Regions from separate parts of the Homo sapiens genome. Here region 1 is linked to region 2. Evidence: fine-mapped expression QTL. A gene starts in region 2. The other region holds a variant in brackets. All regions are shown on one strand. Distances are between the middles of the regions.

Region 1 (12,407 bases), 68 kb after region 2:
CTCAGTGCAGCCGTCCCAAGGGGGCCACAGCCAGCCAGGGTCCCTCCTTTGCTCTGCTTCCTGCCAGTCCCAGGCCTCCTTCGTGAGGGAGGTTTCACTGTGAGCCTGCACCAAGGGAGGAGGAGGAGGACGGTGGGACACATTTGTGGGAGGCGCAGAGAGGTAGGGCCTGGGCCCTGACAGGCTCTGTCCCCTCAGGCCCCTCAGCTGGGGCTGCCCTATGGTCCCCGGACCCAACCCTGGGCTCCAGGAGCCCCTGCTCAGCTGCCTGCCTGTCGCACTGGGTCCCTGTTTTCTTCATCAGCAGGAGCTGTTTCTGTTGAAGGACTCATTCTACTCCTCAGGAAACTTAAGAGGTGATCAAAGGGGTCAACGAACCTCGAGAGTCCAAGTCCAGGCCCTTCCCCTCAGCTGCCTCTGCCGGCCTTGGGCTGGGGGAGCCCTGTGGCCCCTGGGAGTGTGGAAGTGTCCTCCGGGATGGCTTTGCTCCGGTGGGTGGAGATCCGGCAACAGTTCTTAGGCTTAGAAAGTCACTTTTATTCCCTAATGTTACAAATGCAAACACCCTTGCCTTTTCATTTCAACTCAGAAGTGATTCTGTTTCTAAACAGAGCACATTTAACATGCATGTTTTGGGGCTTTGGGCTAATTTTGGTCCTGTTTACAAATGCAATTAGGGAAATGTCCTTAGCTACTCCCCGCTTCATAAGTGTCGCGTATCTGCTTCCCTTTCTGCACACTTCAATTATTTGAAAACCGAGCAAACGCCGTGAGCCCACACATTTTCACCGGTGCTTGCATCTTAACATGTGAGCCATTACTTAAAAGAAAACCCCAATTCTGAATTAATGCCTTACTTGCAAATAATCAGTTTATTCGTAAGTGCTCAAGGACATTCGCAAATACCTGAAACGCTACACGTGCTCAGATATCGTGACACAAAATATAGATGACAAAAAGGTGAACTTTCATGGCATAAACGTGTTATTTTTTCTGGGGTGAAGGGGTGTTCCTCCATCTGTTGGACGAATGTCTCTAAGTGTGGCTGTACCTCGTGGATAATGTTGGGTTCAGGCTTCTCTGCTGGCTGGGCCCCAGGAACTGGATATTTCAGGTGGGACAAGGACCTGGGTGCTGCAAACAGGACCATAGTTGCCAGGGGCACCCCACTTTGGCACGTTCTGTGTCATGCCCTCTAAGTGGGGTGCACTTCTCAAGCCTCGCCCAAGGGCTAAACTGCTGGTATATAAGTTCTTCCTCCTTTTCCTTCCTTCTTTTTTTCCAAGATATCTGTAACTCAAACTTCACCGACCACCGGCCCTCTCCAGCCCGGGCAGGCTTCCTTCTCTAGCTTCTTTGATGTTCTTCCCCGCAGCAGGGCTCCAGGGAAGCTAGGTGTCCTCAGCACAGTTCCCTGGTCTCTGCTGGGGCTTGGTTTGAAGGAGTTGACAGTTCCAAGGTGACTCTGGTGACCCTTGTAGCTACTGGGCCAGGAACTTCCTTTTCTGTTTAGTTGTTTAGCTGAATATTCCCCTCCCTCAAGCTCCCCCTGCCTCAACAACTATAAATGTTTTCCAGAGGTGAGCCTAAAATGAGCCCTTGTGGCTGCAGGGTTTGGGGGATCACTGGATCTCACTGGTTCTCAGGGTCTCCTTTATTTAGTCTCTGAAGGCAGGGTTCCAGGCACTCAGCCCCAGGCCCAGTGTCTCAGAGGCTGGCCTCCTCCTGCTCCTGTCATTGGTGGGTCCAGGGTCACTGTGGGACCCACTGGTTCTCTCCTCTGGGCTCAGCCTGGGCAGCCTGTCCTGGACCCCTGCCCCACCTGCTCCTCTGGTGCCCTCCCACCATCTGCTGTTCATTTTTGTCACAGCCCGGAAGCATTCCTGCTCCTTCTCAGATTTAGGAGGTACCTTGTCTCTCTGGTCAGGCTGAGGCACTCAGGTCAGCATCCAGTGACCTCAGGCTGAACTGCCCAAGCCTTTGTTCGGGGGCAGCCTGGGGCCCACCGCCCAGCCCCAGCCTCCTTGCTTCCCAGAGGCAGAGCCCACCTGCCCTTTTCTCAGACTCCTGTTCTCCAACTGCTACCAACCCCTCTTCCAGGAAGGCCCCTGGATTTGGCCTGGATTGTTATGGCTTGCTTTAAATGAACTCCCTTGTCCTAAGCTATTCCCTGTGACTGGTGTCACAGCGTGGCACTCATCCCTGGCCTGTGTCTACAGGAGCTGTGTCCTGCTGGCTCTGGTGGCCCATGGGGTTTCCTGCTCCCTTCCTGCCTCCATGGGAGTTGGCTGAACTGTGGGGACCCTCTGGGATGACCCAGGGCTTGGCCCCTCACTGTTTTCCTGCCTGGGCCCCAGCTGGCCCCTGTCCCCTCTGAGTGCCCTCACACAGGCCCAGTGCAGCTGTCCCAGTGGGGCTGTGGCCAGGCCAGTCTCTCTCTTGCTCTGCACCCCCGGCTCTTTCCTGGCAGCCCTTGTGCTTCTTCCGGAGCCCCTCATCCCTGAGGCTGCCCCGTGGCCCTGTGCCTGGCCCTGAATCCCAGGCAATCCTCCCTTGCTGCCGCCACCACCCTGGCCTCCCCGAGGCTTCCATCCTATTGGTGTTGTGAGGTTAGGGTCTGCAAGCCCCTTTTTCCAGGAAAGCCTTTACTGTCTAGTCCTTGGCCAAGGGAGGCTTAGGTGATCCCTGCTGGCTCAGGTGTTTTCTTCATATTCTTCCCAGACTGTGGGGCTGGGGAATCCAATTCTGAGTTCTGCTCTTGGTCTCACTTTACCCCAATTCCCCTGGATTGCAGGTCCCATCTGCAGCTTCCTGGTCTCTGCATCTGAGGACTCCCACATGGGGAACTGGTTGGCCCCATGAGCCTCCTTCCCAAGGCCCTTTGTCTGCAAGGAAGGAGACCTGATGCTAGGTGTGCATTGGAGGTGACGGTTCTGGCCTCCCGCTGTCACTGTCTTCCCAACCCTGCACCTGTGGGTCACCCTCTGCTCCTTGTTGTCCAGGCTGCTCTCGGCCCTGCCGTTCTGGGAGCTCAGCCATTGCCCCCTCCCTCAGGCATGTGGGGACATGTCAGGAAGCTAGGGCTTTTCTGCTTTCCCCACCACTCCTGCCTGGAGGGTTTCACGGCTAGACTCCTAGGGCCCAACCTCCAGTTGAGGCCCGGGCTGCCTCTCCGGCATATGCTGGCAGCCCCTTCTCCTTCCCTAGGCCTAGGGCCCCAGCCTGCTGTCAGCGCCAAGCCCACGACACCCATTCTTACCCAGTCCCCACCCCAAATCCCCCTCTCTCTGTTGGCCTCCTCTAAAACTGCCCTCACCTGCATCTCAGACCGCGCATCTTCCGTCCTCCCCGTCCTTGCCAAACTAAGCAAGGTCACGTGTGAAGGAGTTCCCAGGGGGGTGAAACTCCTCCAGCAACTCTCGCCTCCCCTGATTTAGATAACTCCCAGAATCTGCAATGGTCTAGGGGGAGAAAACTCACTCATCTGCCCCTCTCTCTTCTCACTTACTTTTCAAACAAATTGTATGGCTCAATCCCCATATGTTAAGCACCATGGCTGTGAATTTATAGACTTCAGTCCGGTTTCTATTGCAGAGAACAGAATTCTCTGTAACTAATTTAAGCAGGAAAAAAAAATTCACAAGAGGAAACCAAGTGGTGGATGGAATTGTCAGGAGGGCTGCAGACCAGACTCAGGGGTAGCCTTTTCAAACTGACTTTTAAAATAACTACGCAGGACTGACCCACCAAGGGAGCTGCCACCTGTTTCTGCTTCATGGGGCTGCTGAGGGAATGAATCGGTACCTCGGGGGGCCCTGGGCTGCTGTTGCCAGGATCACAGCAGCTGCAGGGGTACCCCTTGGGTGCTGGCAATGGGCTGTGGACTCTCATTCTAGGGCAGGGACGATGGCGGTAGAAGCATCTCTCTGCCTCACTGCTTCCTTCCAAGGCTCTCAGAAGAGCATCTGATCTGTAGAGCCCAAACATCTGTCCTGCAGCTTTAAGAGGGTTTGGCAGGGTTGGGCTGATGCCTCACATCTGGTGTGTGGACCAGGGTGTGTTTATTTCCTCGGCAGCTCCATGAAGTAGGGGCTTTACCCCTGCTCTACACTTTGGGGGAAAGACTCAGAGACAGTAATTGGCCCAAGCAAGCACAGCATACCCAGAAGAGCTGGAAGGAGCTCTAACCCACTTTACTCCCAAACTTTGCCTGTTCCCCTGGAGGTCAGGGCCCAAAGACCCGAGTCCCAGATCGGGCATGGCCCAACGTCCCAACCTTAGGCCAGTGGAGTGTCGAGAGATGCCACCTGTACAATAATCCTGGGGCCTGTGCCGGCCCTGTCAACCCCTGCATCTCGTGTCTTGTTGCTAAAATTCTGGTTCCTGCTGAGATGTCTGCTCCAAATCTTTCCTTTAAAGATGGGAAGAATGAGCCCCCCAAAATAAGGGTTGGAAACGGGGAGAGCCTTCCTGTGGTCATAGGAAGCATGATCAGGGAAGAAGAGGTTACGTCTGGCAGTTATTTAGATTATAACCCAGAGACGGGGGGAGGAGGAGGCAGGTGGCACCAGGATTAAGGGGGTCCCTGCCACAGGGCATATATGTGAGAAGGGTCTGCTCTGACCCTCTCCTAGCCCCCTGCTCTTCCCCACGGGCTGATGAGTCTGCAGGGCCCACGGGCATTCCCAGACACTTTCCACTTGACCATGCTCCAAGCACCTGGGATGCCAGGATTGACTGTCCAGTTGGCCCCGGACATGTTTCCAAGGCCTGTCCTTCCCAGGGTGGACCGTGCCACCCATGTGGGCACTCCTAGGCATGAGAGATGACCAAGGAGTAGCTGCGTGTGGGAGGTGTAGGCAGGGCTTGAATGCGTGGGGTGGCAGTCTCTATGCATGCCTGTGAGACCCTTTAAGTTGTGAGATAGTGCTGTGGGCGAGAAGAGGGTGTCCTATGGGCCGGAGAATGGGGCTTGACTTTCCATAGGCCACCACATTTAGGGAGGCCAGGAATTTGAAATTCAAACCTGTTAGAGGTCATCGTGAAGGTACATTTGTCAAGGCAGGAGGATATTCTAACAGTTTGTTAGCTGAATGGAGAACTTTTCAGTATTTAGACACACAGGATTTGGGCTTCCCTTTGTACTCACGCCCAGGCCTAGGAAATACTAGGGATAGGCCTGGGCTCTGAGTTAATGGGGCCTGGGGGTAGAAGTCAGATGGTGTGGGATGGGCCCACTGTTTGGAGGAAAAGGCTATACATGGAGGAAAAGGGAGAGGAAGTGGTTTTGCTGTTTTGTGTCTGGGCAGGAGCAGGGTGGGCTTGGAAGGCTGCTCACAGAGGAGGGAACGACCCTGCGGGGACTGGGGAGGTGGAAGGGGAGATGGCGTCACTTGGGCCCAGGAGTTGAGTGGGGCTGGCAGGAACTTCTCCTGGGGGTGGGAGGAAGGTGGGATGGAACTGGCAACTCATGGAGGGCAGGATAAGGGGGTAGGGAGGAGGGGGGCTCAGAAAGTCACTTTACATTTGGAGTGTCTTCCTTTTGCCCTTTCCAGCTAAGTAAAAAGCATATTTTTCTCTTTACTGCTGCTCAGCAGCATCTCATGGCCCCATTGCTTTTCCTAGTTTCTTGCTCTGAGGGTCAACTCACAAGTCTTCTTCTACATGCCATGTGAGGCACCAGCCCTGGCTGGCACCTGTGGTGGGAAAGCCTAAAGGAGACAGCACCTCTGTCTCTGGGGAGCTGCCGGGATGTGGCTGTCCCTTAGCTGTTTATAACGGTCCTTTGACATGGTTCAGGTGAGGGTTAAAGGCGGGAAGTAACCCTAGGAGACAGTGGAGCCTCGAGTGGCTCAGTCCCTGCTGTAAACCCCATTCCAGAGGGCACAGTCCACCCATCACATAGCACTAGAGGGGAGCGCCGCGCTTCACTCTGCCCACTGCAGTGAGGCTTCTGGGCCATCTTGGTTCTTCATCTCCATTTTTGTTCTGCCTTGTACGAGCCTCTTCTTTGTTCTGCTTTGTTGCCTCATGGCCAGAGCTGCTCTTGCCTCCTGTTTTGTGTCTGATATTTCAGTTTCTGCAGCTCCCATTTCCTGTCTTTGGCCCCTGCTTTCCCAGCTGCTTTCGGTCTAAGGAGCTTTCTGACTTTAGGACCTGAGAGTGGAAGTCTCCCCACTGACTCCCTGTTGACAGCTGATCATCGACTCCCCTCAGTCTCACCCTGAGCTGTCCCTGTGCCAGCCGGATGGAGGTTGCTAAGCAGGGGTGGCGTGGGGTGTACAGAGGTACGTGGTCCACGGCTCTTAACTGGAGGACTTCACTGAGGGACGAGTCACCCACTGTGTGTCCGCACTGTGCTCACACACAGAGCTTCCAGTGCCACCTCACAAGAGAGCCATGAGGTAGGCATGAGGCCGTTTGAGTTCTGTTGTACTCCAATGAGGAAAAGGTACTTACTTTTACCCTCCGTGTATGGACCAGGGAACTGAGGCCCAACAAATGCTGATTAACGCAGGCAAGGGCTGGCTGCCCACTCTCCCTGACTCCAGGAGCTCATGTCCCCATCCCAGGCCTGGCTGCCTCTACACCCATAAATGCATGATGAGACACCCCAGGCCAGACTATGAACTTAGGGCTGGACTGACCACCAGGGAGTGTGGTTGAGGTGGGAGACGGAGACTCAACTCTAGACCAGATTGAAGAGTGGCTAAAACAGGAAGAGGCCCTGAAAGCACCTCTCTCCAGAAGTCATGCCCACCACCAGCACCATGAGTTTTACCTTTGTCTATAGCAATACCCGGAAGTTACTGCCCCTTTCCATGGCAATGACCTGGAAGTTACAGCTCCTTTTCTAGAAATTTCTAAATAACCTGCCCCTTAATTTGCATGTGATGAAAAGTGGGTATAAACATGACTGCAGAACTCCTCCTGAGCTGCTGCTGTCAGCACACTGCCCGTGGGGTAGCCCTGCTCTGCAGGGGCAATCACAGAGCTGTAACACTATCACCTCTGTAAAGCTGTTTCTTCCACCACCAGCTCACACTTGAATTCTTTCCTGAGCAAAGCCGAGAAACTTCTTAGGGTAGGCTCCAAGTCTGGGGCTCGTCTGCCCTGCCCCATGGTGGTCAGGCAGTACTGGGCCTTGGAGTGCTCCTCCGAACTCCAGAGCCTCAATTTCCACCTCTGTGAAATGGATTGAGCTACTCCTGCTTCACGTAGCTGTATCGAGGCACGGAAGCCTTGAGAGCTGAGGAGCGTTCATACCGTGGCCTGGCCCAGGTAGGGGCCGCTCGAGAATGTTGGCTGAATGAAGGAGGCTGCGACAGTGTTGCAGATACA[G/A]CAATGGAAGCAGATGCTTTGGTCAAAAGAAATAGACCCCATAGAGGGCCGAGAGCCAGGAAGGAGAGAGCCAGGAGAACCTCCGAGTGGGGTAAAGGAAGAGGGGAGTGGCAGGGGCCTGGCCAGGGAGGCCAGGGGAAGGCTCCCAAGAAGGACCAGGCCAGTGAGGGCAAAGCCGAGCCCCTTGTGCTGAGGGTCAGTGACAGCGACCTCACACCATCTGAGTCTTTCTGAGATCCAAACTTGGTTACTCTCCTTCCCTTCCTCATTTGGACCAGATGATTGCGTTTTACAAATTATATTTTCAATTCCCTGCCGGGTGGCCTTAATCCAGGTCTCCATCTCTCTCTTGGATTCCTGCCACAGCTGGAGACAGTCACGGAGGTGCTAAAGTGTCGACTCACTGATTCCCTACTTAGTGCACTCCCCCAAGCCCCAGGGCTTCCAATACCAACATATGGATATATGTTGGTGACTTCCAGCCCCACGTCCATCTCAGATAGCCCAGCGGCCCCCAGTCCTCCTGCTTCCTATGTAAGTGGCAGTCCCCTGCCACTCAAGCCAACATGATGGGCCGTTTTTTTGGAGCTAGTCTCCACCTTCCCCTCATCTCATACTGACTTGATCTTGACAACTCATCTCAATCTGGCTGCTCCTCTCCATGTACCCATTCCCCTTGGGGTGCAAGCCACACCACCCTTCACTTGGGGGATGATAGCAGCCAGTGGGCCCACATCTGGCTGTGCCCCTCATCTGTTAGATAATCTCACAGGCTCTTCCAGCCATGCTGAGAAGGCCCATCACCGACTCATGCCTCTGGACCTTGGCACCTGCCAGAAATGGTAGTCCCACTCCCCCTGCCAGTGATTGGCTTAGGAATGGCCACGGGACCCAGTTCCAACCAGGAAGAGGAAATGGGACGAGAAGAATGATCCTCCTTTAGAATCGGTTGTATCTAATCGGGATGCAGATGCCTGAAACTCTGCAGTTTAGGAAACACTAGGGCCCTCTCTGTGAAACATTGAGATGTCCAAGTGGAAAGAGAACAAATCCTGTATTCGAAGAAACGGTGGACCGAGGCTCGCCCCGGCGGACCTGGACCTGCGTGCCTCTGCCTTCTCATGTGAACTGATGTCTCTTGCTTGAACTCACTTGAGTAAAGGTTTTGTGCCACTTGTAGCATGTGCAGATGTAACCATCAACACGGAACTCCTACTTCCTGGAGACTGGGGGGGATTTGAACTTACTGTAGGTTCACGGAGTGACAAAGCTGTTTCTAGGGCCGATGCAGCCGTGGGCCATGTGAATAGGATCACGGGGTCTGGCCTGGGGGAGGTGAGGGTTCTGTGCTCTCCCGTACTGGCCAGACTCCACCTGGAGAGGCTATGGTCAGTCCAGGGTGAATATGCCAGGAGGGAGGTTGACCCGCCAGGTCCACCTGCTGAGAATGATAGCAATTAGAAGGGTTGGGAATCCCTGCCACGCAAGGGATGAGTGAGAAAATGGGGCTTTTTCTCCTGGCAAAGAGAAGGTTGGCTGTGGGACTTCACTTCGGCTTCAGATGCGTGCAGGGTGATGTGTGGAGGGGGTGGCCACGCTCGTGCTGCTGACCAAGAGGAAGTCGATGACAGTACAGAGTTTGTCAACAATTGAGGGCAAATTCAGACTTCAGTGGGTATCATTCTCACCCAGGGAAGTTGGTAAAAACAGAAGGGCCCAGGCCCTGTCTTTCAATAAGCCTGGGCTCCAAGTTGTTAGCACTCTAGGGGGTTCTAGGGCACCGCAACATTTTTGCAATGCCTGACTCAAGGGAAGGAAGCCAACATTTGTGAGGCATTTAACGTGAGCCACGTGTTGAGCTGGGCCCATCCCTGTGGCTCCCATTTGATTTTGACACAAATTCTTAGAGCCAAGCACTGCTACAGATGGTTTTGGGAAGTGTAGTGAGTTCCCCATAAGAAGTGTGGCTAAAAATCAGTAAGAAAAGGATGATCAGTGTGAGAGGAAAAGGAGAGTAGGAAAAGAGAATTCTTAGATGAAGCCATAAAAATGGCGAAGAAACCTATGCAAAGATACTCCTCTGTTGTGGCAGAGATCACAAGCTGTTCTCCAGTATCCACCTTCCCTTCTTCCACAGGAGCAAAACCCTTCATTTTCAGCCAGGCATGTGGTCTATTATTAAGACATTCCCCAACCTCCCGTCTAGCGTGAGGCCCCGTACTCAAGTTCTGGTCAATGAGAAGTAGCAGATTCCAGGAACCGTCCTAAAAAGGCAGCTGACAGGTGTTCCTTATTTCCTTTTTCTTTATCTTTTTCTTGTGGCTGGAATACGAGACATAATGGTTGGGGCTCCAGCAGCCCTTATGGGGCAGTGAGGAGACCTTGGGGACAGAGATCCCACATAGCAAAGTAACAAGAGGAGGGGTCTGCGTGACCAAAACCATGGAGTAGAGCTGACATGCCAGCTCTAGACTGCCGTCCTCCTGATTTTACTTAAGCAATAAATGTCTGGCTGGAGTCTCTGTTATTTGTTCCTCTGCCTATTCCTCGCTGATAACAACAGAGAAATACAAAACAAGACAATGAACTTTCCAAACTCCTGATCACTTTTCACTCATGAGATTGGCAGAAACCTAAAAAGACGATGATATTGTTAGAGACAGTGTAGTGCTGTGGTTCACATCCCTCCTGCTCTGGACTTACCAGCTGTGGGAACGTGGACAAAGTGTGTAATCCTCTGTGCCTCAGTTTCCTCACCTAAAAAATGAGTGTCAAACCCAGTACTACCCCACAGAGTCATTGTGAGGGATCAGTGTTTAGAACAGTGCCCCATGCAGAGCACACATAAGTGTCTGCCGTGACTATTACTATTTAGCTGACGTACCTGAGGTGGGTGCGCAGGTGTAGAGGAAAGACGTTCACGCCTGGCCAGGAGTGTGAAACGTAGACAGCCATTTCAGAGGGCTCTTGATGTTTCAAAACTTTCAAACTACATACAAGACTCCCCCCAAGGTGCCCCCTCTAACCCTGAAATTCCACCTCTAGGACCCTGAATCCCTTGGGGTCAAACATGTTTCAGATTTTCGGAAGGTAACTTGGCGCATATGCCCCATCCTGTGTTACTCTTCCCCGGGGTCTGGGGCTGCCCCATGCTGTAGACCCTCTGGGGTGTTCAGCCCACCTCAAGTGCAACTGGGGAATTCTGGGGAGTGAAGGCCCTTCGGGTAACCCTCAGCTGGTAGAGCCCAGGGGCAGGTGGGTAAGCGCCCAGCAGCCTCTAGTCCTTCAGAGAAGCACCCCACATTGCTCAGGAGGTCCTAGAGAAGTTGACCGCCCCCTCCTGCAGTGCCCTCTGCAGTGACCTCCGTAACGACCCTTGTATTATCTTCTCCCAACCCCCGTCTCACTCTCCCCGGTTGCTCCCTCCTGGATTCTGGTGTCACCTTCCAAAAAAACACCTGCACTCAAGTCCTGTCTCAGGCTTTGCTTTTGGGGAACTCAGCCCAAGACAACCCCCTGATGAAACACATTATTTCTTCAGCAAGCTGCACACATATCACAGCAAGTGGGAGAAACAAAAGACGCTGAACACTCTCACGTCAATTTGGGTCAGGTTTGCTGGCAAATAGGTAGAAGAAAAGACGTATGGTTCTGGGAGCATTTGGGTTTCATGGCTGTGGATATGGGACTGGACTGCACTCTGCGGAGCACAAAGGCAACCTCTCTTGCTGAGTTCACTCGGTGTGAGTGGAGAGGCTCCCCCGGCCACGGACTGCACTCAGAAGGCCTGAGACCACAGCAGTCACCAGGAGTTGGGCCCTCCAGGAGCTGATACTTGAGTGTAGAAGATGTCTGCTGGGGCTCCTGGCAACACTTGGGAAGGGAGCCCTTTGGGTGGGGAGACAAGGCCACAATCGATGGGTGCTCAGGGATGGCCCCGCTGCAGAGGTGAGGTCTGAGAAGGGACTTGACAATGAGAGGAAGCCTAGGACGCCAGCACCACCTCCACCTCGCCACCACGGCAGGTGCTCCTGATGGGTCTCAGGGCGAGCGCACCCTCTGCCAGTGACAGGTCAGGTGTGGGCTGTGACCAGTCTCAGCCAATGAGACATCAGGGAGGGCCCGCAGGTGGCCTCGGGCCCGGCCAGCCTGGATGCTGAGGCCGACCTATGAGGCTGACTCGAGGTGGGGAAGAGCAGAACAGGCAAACGGCCAGTGCTCACCCTGCTCCCTGCCAGGCAGCACTGTGGATGGGCTTGTGGCCCACGTGAGACTGAGCAGGGATTTCTGTCACTTGCGGCAGAAAACCTCCCACTGGCTAGCAAGCACCTGGTCCATCCCAAGGGACAGACTGACAGGCTATGGCTTGTCCCCATCATGGAACACAGCAGAGCGCCGAAAAGAAAGAGGGGGTATCCTCCCGTCCTGAAAAGGAACCAGCGACGAGAGATGTCATCTGTTCTCAACCAGGGGTAATTTTGCTCCCTAGGTAGGTTGCCAGGTTAAGGAAATAAAAATGCAGGGCAGCCAGTTCAAGCTGAATTTCAGACCGTGCATGTTAACTAGATGTCCTGTATTTACTGTGGCAACCTTACCCCCAGGGGACATTTGGCAATGTCTGGAGGCAGTTTTGGTTGTCACTGGGGATGGTTAGGTGCTACCAGCATCTGGTGGGAAGGCACCGGGGGTGCTTTTAAACATTTCACAATGCATAGGACAGCTGAGGCCAAAAAAAAAAAAAAAAATTATCCAGCCTAAAATGTCAGTTGTAACAAGGGTGAGAACCCCTGTATTAAATGAAAGATAGCAAAAACCCCATAAGAACCCCATAAGATATGGTAGGATCTCATTTGTACGTCCTGTATTTACTCTGGCAACCCTACCCCCAGGGGACATTTGGCAATGTCTGGGGTTGTTACTGCGGATGGGGTTGTGTGTGTGTGTGTTTCTTTTTTTCTTTTTACACACCCAACTAAGCCATAGAATCGCATAGAAAAAGGTATGGAAGGTCACATACCTAAGTCATGTGGGGTAGGGAGTGGTCATTCCTTTTACTCTAAATACCT
Region 2 (12,407 bases):
ATTCTACAGTGAGAGAACCTCAGGAAAGGCATGACTCTGGGAAGTGACAAGCGATTGTAGGGCTAAGAATGGGGCTTTGAGCCTAAAATATCCCCAGCGTCTCGTGGCCACAGCCTGGCTGCATCAGCAGGAAAGCCTGGGGGAATCATCGCCTCTTCTTCACTGTGTGATCCTGGTCAAATTGCTTAGCATCTCTGAGCCTCTGCAGTCAAATGAGAATAACAGAAGTACCTCGTAGATTGTTGTCATTATTCACAGAGACTTTAATTCATGTAGAGCACATGGCACCAAGCCTGAAGGAGAGTAAACACCTCCTTTTTGAGCTATTATTACGATTTTAGGAAGAGTGTGGCCAGGTTGCAGAAAACTCCAGATGCCAGCGTAAGGAGCTGGCGCTTTACCCTGTGGAGTCAGAGACCAGAAGTTTTTGAGCAGAAAAAAGAACATGAAGAAACCAGCCAGTCAGCTCCTTTCTAGCCCCTACAGCATCTGGAACCTCGGAGCCGGCAGCAGGTCAGCAGTGACAAGCCCAGCCATGAGGCCGGTGACCTCCAGCTCCCAGGAGCTGCCGGCTGCCCCAGTTCCGGACCCAGGCAGCAGCCTGCCCCCACCCCCAGCATCTCCCTGGAGGGAGCCAGATAGATGGTTTAATAATGCAGGCTGCCGGGCTGACCTCGTAGCCGCTGAGCCAGCTGAGGCTAACTCCGCTCCCCCTGCTGTGGCTCCCGCAGAATTCCAGAGCTCCCTGCAAGGGTGCTCAGATCCAAATGGCAGCCACACAATAGTGCGGGGTGCAGTGGCCTCTGGCTAGGGGACAGAATAAGTCAGGCAGATGCAGAGATCTGAGCCTTCCTTCCTCCTCCTCCAGCTCTCCCTGGGGGTGTCTCAGAGGAGTCTCCTGGTTCAGAGAGCTGAGAGGAGGCCATCTGCCATGGGGCTGTAAACACTCGGCAGATCCCGCTTCTGTTGGAGCAGGCCTCGGGGTTGGGGGGAGGGGGATGGACACTCTCGGTCTGGCCCTTGCACCATTGGGTGGGGCAGCTCACCAGGACCCTCCCCAAGCACCTGCTTGTGACTGGCAAGGGGCTGGGCACCCATGGCACAGATCTGGATTAGATGGTTGAATTGGCTGAAAATGGCTCACCTTCTAGTGGAGGCAGCCGGTGTGTCAAAAGGGGTGTCCCCCATTGTCCTCCTGTCCCCTCCCTATCTGACAGCACACTCCAGGGCTGCTCTACCAAGACTGGCGGGGAGGCAGCCTGGCAAACCTCACCATCCAGTCATCTCAGCCCCAGCCAGGCAAGCAGGGTGCCATCAGCACCTCTAATAGGGTTCTCTGGGGTCCCTCCCATAGCTGGGTCTCTGGACCTACAGGCATCCACGTGGACACTTCAAAATATCCCCCAGAGTGTGGCCCTGGCCTTTGGTCCTCACAGGCACCCCCTCACTGGGGCCACACCTTCGGCCACCTTTGACTCTTGTCCAGCCCTAGGGTCTTTATGCACATTCTTTATGCATCATTAGCCTTGAGCTGCCCTTGGTCTATAAACAATGAAGACCATAGGCTCTCAGAATCATGGACTCCTAAGGAATCAGGCCATCCTGTGTTGGCTGCCACTCCTCTAGTTCTGTTTTCGTCTTTGATAGTCTGGATGCAGAACACAGAACTTCCTCAACTTCCCCAAATATAATTGATTGATCTCAAAACCACTGGCCCCCAAGAGGGCTCCTGATGGTACCTCCCTCCTGGGCTCCACCCCCTGTGTGGTCCCCTCACTACAATGAATGGGTCAGATCCATGGAACCAACGGGAAAGCAAAAATGAGTGTTACTTCTGAGGACAGGTCTTAAGAGACACAGGCTTCCTACTTGTTCTCACTCTGGAGAAAGCAGCCGCAATGTTGTGAGGACACTCAAACAGTCCTATGGAGAGGTCCATGTGACAAGACACAGAGGACTCCCACCAACAGCCAACACCACCCTGCCAGCCACGTGAGGGAAGCATCTCAGAAGCAGATCCGCCAGCCCCAGTCCAACCTTCAGATGGGTGGAGCCCCAGCTAAACATCTTGACTGCAAGTTTATGAGACATTTCAAGGCTGAATCACCCTCTCCCAAATGCCTGACCACAGAAACTGTGAAATAATAAGCATGTCATTTTGCAGATTTAAGCCACTGAGTTTTGAGGTAATTCATTACAAAGCAATAAATGACTCATAGGAGAAACACGCAGACTTTTCTGAAGGGAGTGGGGGGAAGGAGGTGGTAGGGAGACTGAAGTGGGGGAGGGGGCTCGTAATGTACACACCACAGCAAAAGAATGTCAAAATCCTTCCTAGAAATACATGTGTTCTTCGCAACTAGGCCTCCTGGGCGGGTCGGCTTCCCTCCCTGTCACCTTCCTCCCGACTTGTGGTCTCTTCTCTCTCCTACTCATTCTCCCCCAGGCCCCAGCATCTGACAACTACCTTCATCCTTGCATGCCCTGACCTGTCACAGTGACCAGAAAAACAAAACACTCCTAGATAAGAGGACCCACCTTCCCCAGAAGGCAGCTCAGCCCCCATCTCTTCCTAGTCCACTTGGCAGGGTTCCACCGTGGGCAAGGACCACGCTTTGCCTTCCAGGCCCGTCTTTTTCTTCCAGGCTCTGTCTCACCACTGGCTCCTGTCCTCAGCGAGCTGATGTCCTCAGTTCCAGTACTGGAGGCGCAACAGAAATGTGATTTTAGGTCTGGATCCAAAGGAGGAATGTGACACCCCGCACAAGCTCTGGGGTGTGTGTGTGTGTGTGTGTGTGTGTGTGTGTTTCTCTGAAAGAATCACTTTAACCTAATTTTCTTAGCATCAACTCAAAATGCCACTGAGACCAAGTGAAGAAAATTTCACCTAAGTACAAAGGGTAAATCTTGTTATTCACCTTAAACAATGCGTGAAGCTTTTAGCATTTCTATGTTCCTCTCACTCTTCCTCCTCTGTTCTCTAAGCTTTGAAGAAAGGACGACTTTCTGGAAAAAATGTCTTTCTAGTGACGTGGCCAGGGCAGTGGGATCATTTGGATGTGGGCCATGCTTGTTCACCTTGAAAATAAAGGGCACTTTCTGGTGAGCTGTCAGCCAGGGGCAGCTCCTGTGCACCTCTGGGAGAAGGCCGAGCAGATGGGGTTCTGGGATGCAGGGCAGGTGCCCAGCCCACCCATGTCACCTGGCACTGACATTTCGAGGATGGTTCTGCTCCGGTTAATTTTCCTGTGCACGCGTCACTCCACCCACAGCGCAATTAGCCCAGCTGAGGGCAGGAAGTGGTACCTGGATTCACATTCCTCCAAGACTGTCCATGGTGGTGGGGAGAGGAGAAATTAGGGCGCTGGTGGGAAGGGGGGGTGGATGCTGTGTGCCCGGAAGAGAACCTCCTAACGTCTAGATTGGTGGCTTATTAATAAGAATAATGTGTGAAAATGGCCTTGCACAGTGCCTGGCCCTGAGCGAGCCCCTGACACATGGTTGCTACTTGATAGAGGTGACCAAGTGAAGAATAAGCTGGGGGAGGTGGACACATAGAGAATGAATAATGACATGATGTGATGTGTGCTGTCACTGAAGCCTTGCAGAGTGTTCTGGGAGCCGGTGGAGAAGGAAGTAGCTCAGCCAGCTCAGTTTAGGAGTGGTCAGGGGAGGCTTCACTGAGGAGGCGGCTTTCAAGCAGTACCTGAGGATAGGTAGAAAGTAGACAGGTAGGGAAGGGATCTGAGAGGAGGAAAGTCCTCCCACATCAAGGGAACAGGATCAAAAGCACAAAGGTGTGAAGATGATGGGGTGACAGATCCAACTCCATCTTCTATATGGTGGCAGAAAGTGAGTCTGGAAAGGGCAGATATTGGTGTTGCTGGGACCCAGAACATATGTGGGATGATATTGAAGATGCTGGAGGAATAAATAAGGACCAACTGCAACGGGCCTTATTTAGGCAAGTTAAAGAGTTTGGAGTTTTGGTCAGGTGCGGTGGCTCATGCCTGTAATCCCAGCACTTTGGGAGGCTGAAGCAGGAAGATCACCTGAGCTCAGGAGTTTGAGGCCAGTCTGGCCAAAATGGGGAAACCCCGTCTCTACTAAAAATACAAAAATTAGTCAGGCATGGTGGTGGGTGCCTGTAATCCCAGCTACTTGGGAGGCTGAGGCAGGACAATAGTTTGAACCTGGGAGGCGGAGGTTGCAGTGAGCGGAGGTTGCACCACTGTGAGTGGAGATTGCACCACTGCACTCCAGCCTGGGTGACAGAGAGAGGCACTGTCTCTAAAATAAATAAATAAATAGTGTTTGGATTTTATCCTGTAGCAGAGAGGGCTTACCATTCATCTCTGTATTTATTCCTGAGGCAGACATCACCAATTGATCATGCCATTTTCTGCAAAGGGTGAGCACCTCTAGGCAGCTGCTGCCAATCACTTGTCATGAGAAAGAGAACATATTTGCCTCTGTGCATGGGCTCTGGGGAGCTACTGGAGGGTTTAAACAGATGGGTGGTGAGGGAGTTTGTTGCAGGTATCCAGGTGACGGCAAGCCTGGTCTGGGGCAGTGACTGTGGGAATGGACATGTTATTGCTTACGTTTGTCTCGGTCTTAACCATTCAGCTACGGATTCTAGGCAGTCTCCTGAGCTCCCCGCTCCCCGCATTCCCAGGTCCTCAGGGTTCCCTGTGTGTGTGTCTGTGTGTTTGTGTGTGTGCATTAGGTCTGCCTGGGCTTGATTTTAATAAGGAGCTTGCTATATGTCTGGAGCTGCACTATCTCACATGGCAGCCACAAGCCACATTATGGCTATTTAAATTTAAAGTAATAACAATTAAAATTAAAAATTTAGTTCCTCAGCCACATTAGCCACAATTCCAATCACTCAATAGCCACATGCAGTTAGTGGCTACTGTCTTTGACAGTGCAGACATGTATCCTTTCCACTATGGTCTAGAGAAAGCCCAGTCGAGTGTCTAGATGGTGTGGTCCACTATGACCCTCAGGCCAGGCCAACTCTATCTTCTATATGGTGGCAGAAAGTCAGCTAAGAGCTGAAACTCTTGTCAATGTACATCTGCCCAGTAAGGGCAAAGTCTCCAAAGGGAGATTCTTAGACCGTTTTAGAGCTTCAAACAAATTCTGACCAAATCCAGCCAGACCTGGAGGTCTCCAGGGAGAAGGGAGTGGCCGGCACTGTGCTGGGGGTACTGGCTGCTTTTGCTATATTTCTTTCACAAAGGAGGAAACAGGCTCAGAGAGGGTTGTGACTTGCACTCTGGAAGATGACTGGGAATGTCTCGGAAACAGAGCAGCAAGAGGCTGTTTTGCCACTGACTCCCTGGTATTCTTTGGGGTCATCACTGCTCAGTTTCTTGGGCAGGAGCGGATTAGGTGGCATCTGCCAGTGCCCATCTCAGAAAGTGTCTGGGCCTGAGAGCCACAGGGGGGCTGTTGGCTTGGGGAGCACTCTAATTTCTCGAGGGATCCGCCAGAGGGCGCAGAGGCCGTTATGTTCCGCCTGAGGGGCTCTTCCAGCAAGGTCTTGGAGCTGGGACCCTGCTTCTTGCCCAGCCTTGTCAGGGATACACACCATGTGTTGGATACCGCCCCTGCCCTGTAGGAGGGCTCAGTTTAGAGGGCAGAGACAGCACATGGCTTGTTTGGGTTTGCAGCGAGGGACCTTGAAGGATGGGTAGGAGTGTGCCAGGCAGCCTGGGGTGCAGGTGGGGAACGCCCAATAGTCCTTCTGCATACCCCAGGACAACAAGTGGCCTGTGACCCAGTGCTTGTCTGCCCTCCCAGCCCCATCCTGGGCCGTTCCCTGTTCTTAGTTGAAAGGAGGGAGGAATTTCTGGACAGACGTTCTTTCTGCTCTACTAATACCCAACTCCGTGGAGTTCCCTGTACACACATACAAAGCTGTTTCATGCCTCTGTGCCTCTTTGCACATGCTGTTCCCAGAGTCCAGGACACCCTTCTCCTCCTTCTTTAGCTGGCCAACTCCTACTCATCCATCAAGATTCAGCTCAGGCAGTGGCTTCTTCTGGGGAGTCTCCTTATTCCAGACCTGCATGAGATGTCCCGACGGGGAGTTCCCGCAGCCTGGACTTCATCTGCTGTGCAACACCTGAGAACAGGCGCTGGTGCATGCGGTCCTATAAAAGTGATGGAGAAGTACAGGGCCTGCTGGCAGCAGGCCTCCGACATGCAGCTCGCAGGGCCTCGGGAGGAGGTGCTTGCATGCCCAAGCACCAAGTTATAGGCCCCGGGTGCCAGGCTTCTTGCATCTTCCACCTCCTCCTCCTCCTCCCAGCATCCACCCCTTTGCAGGTGGCAGCAGGTGGCAGGGGCTTTGGCGTAAGGGGCGGGGAACTGGGCCTCTGGAAGGCTAATGAAGGTTCTCTAGCTACAGATGAGCCCAGTATCCCTTGGACCTACTCCTGGAGGGGTGGGGAAAGGCAGTGAGTGCCCTGGCACAAGGTAGGGGAGCGTAAAGTCTAATACTGTCTGTAGGCTCCCTGTGTAACCTTGGGGGAATCACTCCTCTCCGAACCTCAGTTGTCTGGCCTGTAAAATGGGAACGCAGCAGCCGCACTTCCCCAGTCGCCAGCGGTTGAACGCGGGACCAACCAGCAGGGCGCAGGCGGCAGGGCATGGAGGTACAAGGCGGAGAGGGGGCCCATCAGCGGAGGCGGAGTCCAGGGGGAGGGCGAGTCCAGGCGCACTTCGGGCGGCCCCGCCGCAAGTTTGCCCCCAGCTGTTGAATGCGCTGGCGGAGGCCGGACCCGGACCCGGACCCGGATCCCGCGGGGTGAGCAGCGCAGGGGGCCGCGGCCGGGACAGGGGTCCGCCAGGCCGGGGCTCGGGTCCGTGGGGCCGCCTTCGCCTCCCCGGGCGCTGCAGCTGCAGCGGCGGCGCCAGGCGCGGCCCCAGCCCCGCGGGCGTGTGTCTGCGAGCGCGCGTGTGTCCGTGGAGCGTGCGGCCGGCTCGGGGGCGGGAGCGGGCTTGCTGCGGAAAGGCCTGCGGAGGGCACCGGGAGCGGGCGGGCTGGCGGACGGACAGACGGGGACGGACAGACGGACACAGCCTGCCGCGGTCCCTGACGCGCGCCGCTTGGCCCCTCCCGGGCGCCCTCCCCGCCGAGGCAGGGGCAGAGGCGCGGCGGCGGGGAGGAGGGGGCGGCGGCGTCTGCGCGCACACGCGCGCTCCCAGACACACACACAGACACACGCGGGCCACCCCACGGCCACGCACCCCGCACCCACACCCGCGCTCACACTCACATTCACACTCACACTCACACGCGCAGGCCCCGCGGCCGCCGCTTCCCGGAGGCGGTGCTTGGCCCGGATCCCGGCTGGGGCTGGGGTAAGTGAATTCCTCTGGATCCGAGCGCCGCGACCGACCGACCGGGGAGACGGTGGGAGTCGGGGCTGGAGCCGGAGGGCACCCCCTCCGTCAGTGGGGGTGGGGCTTGGAGAGGGACACGGAAGGGGGGATGAGACGGGGAGAGCCACCCCCAGTGTCTCCTGGGTCTGGGGATCCCCGTGAGACCCCCGGGGGACCACCCTGCGCGAGGGAGGTGGTGGTGGTGGCGGTGGGCGGAGGCGGTGGGAGGACACCGAGGACGGTCGGTGAGGTGAGCGTTTCTGGGGGTGGTGCAGAGGCTCGATGGTGGACGGTGTGCCAGCCGGTGCCACACTGCACCTCTCTGCCCTCATCTTTTCGAATCGGGGGCCCTAACCCCTCTCTTTCACGGGGTGCTGCCGGGTCAAGGCATTCATCCTCTAGCTGGTAAGAGGGGTTGACGGGGTGGATGCCTTCTAGGGGAAGGGGGGCCAGGGTGGGGCTTGACGGCGGTGGGGTTGGTAAGACCAGAATTGGGGGGTGGGGACCCTTTCAGAGGCGCTGGCCAGGGACAAGGAGGGAGGCAGCCCAGGGAGGCGGCATAAATCGCAGACACTGCAGCTCTGGCAGGGCCGGGGCCACTGCCGGGTGTGTGTGTGTGTGTGTGTTTGTGTGTGTGTGCGAGCGCGTGCCAGTGTGTGTGTGTGCGTGCGTGTGTGGGCTCCAGCAGCTGTCAGGGGACGGGGAGGGGGTGGGTGTGTTGGCTGGTGGGGCGCCGTGTGCATGTGGAGAGGATTGTGCGTGCTGTGTGTGTGTGGTGTGTGCGTGTGTGTGTGGACATGGGGTGGACCCTGCTCTCTGTCTGTATACACACAAGCGCACACACGCACACTGTCAGTGGCCTGGCAGGATTTCCTCGGAATGTTTGGAGGGAAGGGAGCTGATGTGTGTGTGTGTGTGTGCGCGCGCGCGCGTGTGCATGCACACTCGGGGAGCTTGTGTCCAAAACAGAGGCCACAGGCCATGGTGTGTCAGGCGTGCCCAAGGAGGGAGACGAGAAGGGGACAGTGGTGCTGACCGTGCACTCAGCTGGGGAGGAACGTGGTACTCGGCACTTTCTGCAGCTCAGGGCTCTGTGCTGTGCCCCTTCCCCCTGGACTCCTCCCACCCAGCAGCTGCGGCTGGAGGGCACTGCCTTGGTCCCTTGCTGAGACGCAGGTGTTGGGCTGGAGTGTGTGTGTGTGTCTGGGCTGCGGCTGTCGCTATCAGCAGGCCAGGCTGTCGGAGTCAGAAAGCTGGAGGGAGTGGGGTGCTGGCAGCACCTGGAGGAATGTGGTGGAAGCTGTGGGGCGCGGACTGCCCGGCGCGGTTACCGAGAGGCGTTTTAATATGCAAGTTGCATCATGAGATGGGACTGGGAGTGTGTGTGTGTGTGTGTGTGTGTGTGTATGTGTATGTGCATGGCTGACACCCCTGTTCTCGTGGCCCGTGGACACCTGTGGGACGTGTCACGTCTGGGCCATCAGCAAAGCATGTGGGCATGTGTGTCCCCTGAGAGGGGTGCACAGGCAGGTGCTGTCCTGATGAGCCGGGGGCCCTGCAACTGTGTGGGTGGGGAGGTGGGTACCTCTGGGCCATCAACGCCTAGGCAGGAAGAAAGAGTGTTAATTGTGGGGACATCAGGAAAAAGTATGTATGTGAGGTCAGTGAGAACCTCAGGTGTGACATAAGCTCCAGGCCGCAGGTGACGTCACTGGGACAGTTTTGTCGGAGGTTGCTCCCCCCAGCCAGAGTGTGTAAATGTGATGTCACGGGAGTGTGTGTGGCCGAGTGTGGTTATGTCTCTTGTATATGAGGGGTGGGAAGGGGAGAGGGATGGAGCCTTAGGACGCGTGGCGTGGTCCCTCCCAAGAGGCCGCCTTTCCCAGCATCCTGAGTGGGCATGGGACCCCTTTCCTTAAGTCCTGCCCCCTGAAGAGTGCACCTTCCAGGACTGGAACCCCCGAAGGAGGTTCTCACATCAGCACCATTGGCTGCTGAACTCCTTTGCCAGGTGGGCCTGGAGGCCTCCAATGTGCTGCAGCCCCCTATCTGACCTCCCCAGTCCCTGTTTTCCTCTTCATCCCAGCCAGGCCCACCACCCCTGGGTGGATGTGCTTTAATGAGTGAGTGTGTCAGTGCATGTGACAATAGAAAATGGCCATAGCCAGGGAGCGTGAGGCCATTGGTTCGAATCCCATTTTGCTGCTTTCTGTGTTTTGTGATTTAAGCATTCGCGTCGCCTCTCTGAGCCTCAGTCTCTCCTCTGTAACATGGGGTGAGGGGTTAGAGAGGTGAAGGGGGTTAAGGAGACCATGGGCCTTGTGGGGGGCGGGTGCTGATGCCTGGCATATGGTGGGGGCTCAGTCCACGTGAGCTCTGTCCTCTCACCTCCTATCCCCCTAGCCCAGAGTAGCTGCTTTCCTGTTTTGGTTTAAGTCTAACTTTGCAAAGGACTTTCTTTTCTTTCCTTGGATTTCCACGGCAGTTCTTTGAGGTGGGTGAGTTAGCCACTATTATGTGGATATTTGACAGATGAGTAAACTGAGTTCTGGAATAAGCTGTCTGTTGATTTAATGTGAATTCCATCCCCCCCCCCGCCGCCCTCAGTGGCTACAGGGAGACACATTTGATTACCCAGCCCCTTCTCGAGGGGTACCTTCCTTTCCTGGAGAGATATGGAGCTATGAGGAATTGGTGGTGGGGTGCCAGGTGATGAGCCCAAGGCCAAGAGTCTCTGGCTGGAGGAGAGGCTGCTCTTGACTCCCAGGTCAGTGCTCTCTTGCTCTTCCACCCACAAGCTCCAGAAACAGTCAGCGTGATAGGAACGGGCACACTCAGCAAGCCTTCTCCAGTGGGGCGTGTCTAGGGCGGTCACTGGGGGCTCCATGCCTGTTCCTCAATATCCCCTGAGGTCTTGTAGGATGCTTGTTTTTGGCAGCAGAATTGGGTTCCAGTGACACCCCTGCCGCATCTGCATCCTGGCTGTGTGTGACAGAGGTCAGCCTCTCCTGTCTCTGTAAGAGGGTGGTGGCAGCTTCCCTTGCGGGTGTGATGTGTGAGTGTGAAAGGGTGACAACCGTGTGCAGGGCTGGGAGGCACACATTGCTGCTACCCTCACCTGCTCCGGCCACAGTGCCTGGGGGCCAAGCTCCTCTCTCGGTGCCCCCACCTGCCCCATGTTGTGACATGTGCTGTGTGGAGTGGATGGCCGAGAAGTAGGATTGCCTCGAAACCTGACGCTTCTTAGCAAGTTAGACCTCTTCAGGAGCTGTGTTAATCGTCTAGAAGGTTTACCCAGTCCTCTGCCTCCTGCCGTCCCAGCCCAATCCCTGATTAAATTAACCTTCTCTTGGCTCAATTACCACCTGGGGCAGAGGCATTGACATTATTACTGGAGATGGTGTCTGGGGGTTGGAATAATTGAGCCCCCTCTCCTTCCCCCTAGCTCTGCCGACAGTCCCCAGGAAAGCCCCAGAGAAGCCCTGAGGACTCAAGAGCCACCTGGGCAGGCTTGCTTATGCCTGGGGTGCCAGAGGAAGGGTGCTGGCTGCACGATGCTGCTGATTGAAATAGTAATAACTATAGTGATAATAATAATAATGATATCAGCTAATATTATTGAGCCCCTACTGAGAGCCAGGCCCGGTTCGAAGCTCTTTATGGGCGGCATTCGTTTAGTCCCACAAAAGCCAGCTGCAGCAGGCACTATTATTATTCCTCATTTTGAAGACAAGAAACAGAGAGGTTACAGACCAGTCCAGGGCCACACAGCGATGGAACCAGGACTGGAACCCTCGAAGGGAAACTCTCACATCAGCACCATTGGCTGCTGAACTCCTTTGCCAGATGGGCCTGGAGGCCTCTACATCTTGGCCTACCCCTCTCACTGAAGGCCCTTTCTGGGCCTTGCTTTGCTTATCTGTAAATGGGTGCAGTGACCCTGCCCTAGGGAAGCTGGGGGTGGCGGACGCCCTTTGCTTTGGCTGCAAGGAGAGACAGGAAAGGAGGGGCCTCGTGGGTGGTGCCTGCATCTCAACCCCCCATCCCATTCCCCACAGAGATGGGACACCCCCAAAGGCAGCCCTTTGCTCCCTGGCCCTCCCACAGTGCCTCGAACAGCAGCGCTTGGAGGGCTCCCCCGGGTGACAGTGGGGAGGTTGCCCCAGGATCAGTATCTTCTTCAGGTCCCGAGTCTATCGTGGCCTCAGCTGTGGCCCCCTGGACTCCCCACCTGGCCATCTTGCTTGTGGAAAGGGCAGGGGCAGGGCTCCAAATCCAACCTCTTTTCCTCCTCGGTGTGGGTCCTGGGCAAGTCACTTCCCCCCCCCCCCCCGAGGCCCAGTTTCCTCAATATGAAGTGGGGACAAAAGTACCGAATTCTTGGTTGGGCGTGGTGGCTCACACCTGTAATCCTAGCACTTTGGGAGGCCGAGGCAGAAGGATCACCTGAGGTCAGGAGTTCGAGACCAGCCTGGCCAACATGGTGAAACCCTGTCTCTACTAAAAATACAAAAAATTATTCGGGCATCGTGGTGCATGCCTGTAATCCCAGCTACTCAGGAGGTTGAGGCAGGAGAATCGCTTGAACCCAGGAGGCCCAGGTTGCAGTGAGCCGAGATTGTGCTACTGCACTCCAGCCTGGGTGACAGAGTGAGGCTCCGTCTCAAAAAAAACTTCCCCAGTAGCTGGGATTACAGGCACACACCACCACACCCGGCTAATTTTTGTATTTTTAGTAGAGACGAGGTTTCACTATGTTGGTTAGGCTGGTCTCGAACTCCTGACCTCGTGATCCTCCCTCCTTAGCCTCCCAAAGTGCTGGGATTGCAGGCGTGAGCCACTGTGCCTGGCCAGAACAACAACAGCAACAATAAAACAACCAAAAAACAAAAAAAACGAATTCTTAACCCTTCTGGGTTGTCTTAAAGGTCATGCTAAAGGTTAGGTAAGAGAAGACCACGTGTATAACATCCTGTCTGGCATGCGAGATGCCATTATTTTCCTCCCCC

The links.
Region 1: its variant is fine-mapped to the expression of ELFN2 in testis (GTEx, PIP above 0.99). The same link has a PIP of 0.9 or more in nucleus accumbens and prefrontal cortex.

The regions. Positions count from the first base shown.
Region 1 is chr22:37,354,425-37,366,831 of GRCh38, reverse strand. It overlaps LOC100506271 (a long non-coding RNA gene), which reads left to right and starts at 11,993. Exons shown (of 2, transcript NR_110515.1): 1 at 11,993-12,407. It also overlaps a transcript of ELFN2 not described here. RefSeq lists enhancers at 10,957-11,457, 11,458-11,958. The variant G/A (reference allele first, on the strand shown) is at 7,342.
Region 2 is chr22:37,422,268-37,434,674 of GRCh38, reverse strand. ELFN2 (extracellular leucine rich repeat and fibronectin type III domain containing 2) reads left to right here and starts at 7,196. Exons shown (of 3, transcript NM_052906.5): 1 at 7,196-7,377.